Linked DNA regions of Homo sapiens: region 2 is linked to region 1. The links come from fine-mapping of genetic effects on gene expression. Tissue or cell type: whole blood. Region 1 holds a variant in brackets; the other region holds the start of a gene. All regions are shown on one strand. Distances are from middle to middle.

Region 1 (2,838 bases):
GGAGGTGATCCCATTTCACAGATGAGGCCCTCCCACACCTAGATAACAGACTCTGGAGCCAGACTGCCCAAGTTCTAATTCGACCTCTTTCTAGCTGTGTGACCTCGGGCAAACTACTGAGTTCTGTGATTCACAAATATTCCTCTTGCTCCAGGCTCCCATTCTTCCCCTTCTTCAGCTCCCTGGACAGGCTTTCAGCTGATGTTTAGCAGACCTTTGAGACCCGTAAATGACGCTTCCTCAGGGTCTTGACCCCTAGACAGCTCCTTGAATGTGGCTCTCAAGGCTACATTCTACGTAACTTCTCTGTGTCCCATTTCCTCAAGTGCAAAATGAGGTTAATACTAGTATGTACCTTGCAGGATTGTTGAGGACCGAGTTAGAATAGACTGCTTAGAACAATCCCTGGCATAAAGTCAGTACTATACAAGCAAGAGTTACCATTTTATTATTATTTTGGCTCTGTGGACTCAGGATTCTCAAGTTTAGAGGAAAAGAGCTAACAGGTACCAAGTGGCCTCTGTGTGCTGAGGGTCTTACAGATGGTATCTTAATGAAAAACAAACCAAATCCTCATGAGAAGGGATTGCCATGGCATCTCTTCCACAGATGAGGAGATGAAGGCTTCAGGTAGTTAAAGTTTCTTTCTTTCTTTCTTTTCTTTTTTGTTTTTGAGGCAGAGTCTTGCTCTGTTGCCCAGGCTGGAATGCAGTGGCCCGATCTTGGCTCACTGCAACCTCTGCCTCCCAAATAGCTGGGACAACAGATGTGCGCCACTATGCCTGGCTAATTTTTGTATTTTTAGTAGATGGGGTTTCACCACGTTGGTCAGGCTGGTCCCGAACTCCTCACCTCAGGTGATCCGCCCGCCTCAGCCTTCCAAAGTGCTAGGATTACAGGTGTGAGCCACCATGCCGAGCCAGGTATCTAAAGTTTCTTACCCAAGGTCTCCGCCAATAAGGGGAAGATCCAGGAATTGAACTCAGATTCATTTGCTTCTAAAGTCATGCCTTTTCTAAGACACAGTGCTATTTCTTTGATGTGAGGATCAGGGTTTGGGATTTGGAATTTGGAATTCAAGGATGTGAGGTCCGAGAGTGCTCATGCTTTGCTTGTTCGTATTATCACAGCTGAAAGTGGTGTTAGTGTGAGTAACTTGTTTTCAGAGTGGTCCCAGTGTGTGACAGGGTGTTGAAACCTCACAGATTCAAGGCTCTGGCCTCACGGTCTAGTTTGGGGGTTACTGGGGGTGTGGCTTGGGAGTACTGGAGGACAGCAAGAGTCACCAAATTAATGACTCATCTGGGGCCAGGAAGTCCAAGGCCACCTGGAGATGAATTATCTGATTAAGAAGCTGTGAGCAGGTGAATGGATGAAGGCAGAAGTTTTGTCATGTATTGCCCCATGTTTAAAGAGCTACCCCTGGGGCTAGGGCTCATGGGGGACTGCGCCTTTCTCCGGTAGCACCCCAGCCCTTTATCAGAGTCTGCAGGGAGCTCAGAGCCTAGCTGGGGGGACGTGAGCACTGGGGGCTTCACAAGGAAGCAGATTCTGAGATGGAGATTAATGTGCAGGGA[A/G]CTCTGGAGATAAGAACCTGTGGAAGGGAGAGGAGGGAGTCAGGTTGGGCCAAGACCTGCCCTCTGGGTTACTCTGGAGCTGGAATGGCCCTTCAGCTTTTTCCCAAGTTGTGGCCAGAGGGCTCGGCTTTTATACTCTGACACTGATGGGTCAGGGATAAGGGTGGGCCCAGGAAGTTGGTGTAACCTTGGGCCAGGGAGCTTTCTTCCGCTGAAGCCATTCTCCTATGGGAGGTGACAGCTGAGGCCTGTGTGCTAGCACTCCGAGCAACTGGTGATAAGTCCCACATTGAAGGGGATCTGAGTGGCACGTTGTAGTGTTCACCACAGGCACCGACCCAAACTGGAGAGAGCAGAGCATCAAAGAAGGTTTCAGTGTGAGACAATGCCTGGGCTGAGGTTAGAAGAATGAGTAGGGGTTACACAGGCCACAAAAAGTCAGGAGGGGAGACAGAGAGAAAAGGGAGTTTCTGGCAGGAAGACCAGTATGTACTAAAACCCAGAGGTAAAGATGGCACAGGAGAGGTGGATAGGTCTGCTGGGCTAAAGAATTTGAGTCGTTGTATTAAGGGGATGGGGAGCCCATAAAGGATTTTAGGACAATATATGACATAATTAAGATTTGCATTGTGGAATAATCCTGGCACTGCCACTTACTTACTAGCTGTGTTGCTAACAACTTACTTAACCTCTCTGTGCCTTGATCGCCTCATCTATGAAATGGGAATAATAATAGTGCCTGCCTCTTAGGGTTGTTGCAAGAATGAAGTGAGATTGTATAGGTCAGGCTGGCATGTGAAAATGCCCTTAGTGAAGATTCGTTACTGTTATTCACTGTAACAGACTGGACTGGGGCTAGAGGAGACCACTGGAAGGCAGAGTTTGAAGCCTACTGCTGGGTACTGCAGAGAAAATGAAGGCCACAGCTAAGGCAGAAGCAGCACATGAGGCCAGTTGAAAAGCTCTCAAGAGGGAAAACTCACAAGACTTAGCTATTGCTTAGATGAAAGGGGTGATGAAAAGATGGCATTCACAATGACCCCCGGGTTTCCGGTTTGGGTGGCTGCCTCTGGGAATACACAAATAGATTTGGGGCAGGGAGATTTGGTGAGTTCATTGTAGATGAGTTGAGATTGAGATTCTTGAGGAACTTCCAGCAGGAGATGCAGATATTCCGAGCTGACCTCTGAGGTCTGAATGGAAAAAAGAAGTGCCAGTGTGGTCAAGGGAGCCCTGGGCCTGGATGAGGTCACCAGGGTGA
Region 2 (2,668 bases), 42 kb before region 1:
GTGACAGAGTGAGACCCTAGCTCAAAAAAAAAAAAAAAATTCAAACACTGCAGATAAAATGAAAGCCTTGATTGCCCCCTGCAGCCTCAAACACTTCCACAGAGGTAGCCCTATTATCGGTTTGGTGTAGCATGGTTACTATGTAGCATAATTACATAGTTAAGCCAGTGCATTCATTTCTATTACTGCATAACAAATTACTGTAAATTTAGCAGCCCAAAACACCAATTTATTTTCTCACATATTCCATGAGTCCAGGTACTGGTTGGCTGAGTCCTCAGCTCAGGGTCTTATCAGGCTGAAATCAAGGTGTTGGCTGGGTTAGCGATCTCATCTGAGGCTCCGTGTGTGTCCTTTCCCAAGTTCAGTGGTTGTTGCCAGAATTCAGTTACTTGCATTTGTAGGATTAAGGTGCCCACTTTCTTGTTGGCTGTCACCCAGGAGCCTTTCTCAGCTCCTAGAGTCCACCTGCCATTTCCTGCCATATGGCAGTTTGCTCCTTCAAGGTGAACAGGACAGCTGTGCTGTGGCTTCAAATCTCTTAGATTCTGTCTCTGACCTCTAGCCCTGATTTAAAGGGCTAGAGTGATAAGATGAAGCCCACCAGGATAAATCACCTCTTTTTGACTGCCTTAAAGTTAATTGATTAGGGACTTTAATTACATCCTTGTCATATAAGCTAACCTAATTACAGGAGTGATGCTCTATCATATTCACAGTCGTGTTTTCTTTTAAGGGGAGAAATGTATACAGGATGTGTACACCGTAGGGTACAAATCTTGGGATACATCTTAGAATTGGGCCTCTCACAGCCAGCCATAAGAACTGTCCAAGTAAGCAATAGAGGTATTAATATGGCCTTTTATAATCAGTATAGATTGTTTGAAAATGTGAGATGTCCATGGTTGGCCTCTAATAACATTCGATTCACGGCAAACATATATTCAAGTAGGAGACATGGTGATATAGGCAGAAAAATCAAATGATGCTAAACAAAAGAAAACTGTCTTTGATTTTGAAAGAATTCAACTTGCTGTATATCTTTTGCCTAAGCCTTCAGTCAGCCTTTGCTCTACATCTACCAATGTGATCACTGCTTTTCCTTCTGACTTCTTTAGGTGGGTCAAGAGTTTGCTTTTCTCCCCATTCATGAGTGTAAAGTTTAATGCCTAACTGAACTTGCTTCCTTCTTTGACTCTTGTGTAGACTCGGGCACATGGGGCAACTTTTTTTGTGTTTTGCTCTACCAGGTCGTCCCTATTCCGTGGGACTAGTGTCTAGCCCCATTTCTTCAGCAGTGGAGCCTAGGATGTAGAGCTGCATACTACCATTAGGAGGCGCACCCTCAGGCCTCGGCTCCGCGTTCTTTATGTCTCTGGACCGCTCTCTCTCGCAGCTCATCTCTATGGTTTCCGTTGGGTGTGTGGTTTTTTTGTTTTTTTTTTTTTGGGGTCCGGAATAGGCGGAGCTTCCGGTTCCGGTGGGGGCCGTCCCTGGCGGCGGAGATGGCGGCGACAGCGGCGGAGGCTGTGGCCTCTGGCTCTGGAGAGCCCCGGGAGGAGGCTGGAGCCCTCGGCCCCGCCTGGGATGAATCCCAGTTGCGCAGTTATAGCTTCCCGACTAGGCCCATTCCGCGTCTGAGTCAGAGCGACCCCCGGGCAGAGGAGCTTATTGAGAATGAGGTGGGGGGCGGGGCCGCGTCTAAAGGGAGAGGAGGAAGGTACCCGGTTGAGAGGTCAGAGGTGAATGGTGAAAGAGATGGGAGACTGGCAGGGCTCTAGACTAGGGCCTATGGGAAGATGGAGAGAAAGGCGAGGAGATACGGAACTTAGGGGTTCGTGCTGATTAACAGGAGAAATTATTCTGAAGTTGAGAAGTAGTTGGGATCATGGAGGCCAACCCACCGGCTCCTTGGCATTACTTCATTTGGTGTTTTTCACCTGTTGTTTTCATTTAGGAGCCTGTGGTGCTGACCGACACAAATCTTGTGTATCCTGCCCTGAAATGGGACCTTGAATACCTGCAAGAGAATATTGGCAATGGAGACTTCTCTGTGTACAGTGCCAGCACCCACAAGTTCTTGTACTATGATGAGAAGAAGATGGCCAATTTCCAGAACTTTAAGCCGAGGTCCAACAGGGAAGAAATGAAATTTCATGAGTTCGTTGAGAAACTGCAGGATATACAGCAGCGAGGAGGGGAAGAGAGGTAAATTCCGAAAGCTTAATTTTCTGTTGGATTTAGGACACTCATTTTTCTTTCCTATACTTGTTTGAAGGTGTGGCAGAATTGGGTCAATTAGAGATTGGCCTCTCCCATCTCTGGATTCCAGTTGAAGGAGTAGTCTGGTCTTCCAGCCTTTAAGGGGTTTGAGTTCTTAGTGGTTCTTGGTGCTACAGCCAGCTAGTTCTGTAGCTTGAGGGATGAGGGAATGATTAAACTTGAGCTATGAATCTCTGGGTTCCCATCTTCTTCCTCATAAAGAGTTAGTTGCCTAGAAGGGTCAGGCAGGTGAATGGAAGGAGTAATATCGTCTGTGTGAAATCAGTGATGAGGCTGAAGGCATAAGCCTTGTTCAAAGTGAGAAGCCAAGGCCGGCGGGGGTGGCTCATGCCTGTAATCCCAGCACTTTGGGAGGCCGAGGTGGGAGGATTGCTTGAGTCCAGGA

The links. PIP is the estimated chance that this variant, and not a neighbour inherited with it, causes the effect.
Region 2: HIF1AN starts here. The variant in region 1 is fine-mapped to the expression of HIF1AN in whole blood (TOPMed, PIP above 0.99).

What each region holds. Positions count from the first base shown.
Region 1 is chr10:100,576,798-100,579,635 of GRCh38, forward strand. No RefSeq gene overlaps it. Among named protein-coding and RNA genes, the nearest start is that of HIF1AN, 42 kb to the left of the region's middle. The variant A/G (reference allele first, on the strand shown) is at 1,578.
Region 2 is chr10:100,534,454-100,537,121 of GRCh38, forward strand. It overlaps HIF1AN (hypoxia inducible factor 1 subunit alpha inhibitor), which reads left to right and starts at 1,490. Exons shown (of 8, transcript NM_017902.3): 1 at 1,490-1,682; 2 at 1,958-2,208. The coding sequence starts at 1,506. RefSeq lists enhancers at 1,250-1,339, 1,410-1,469.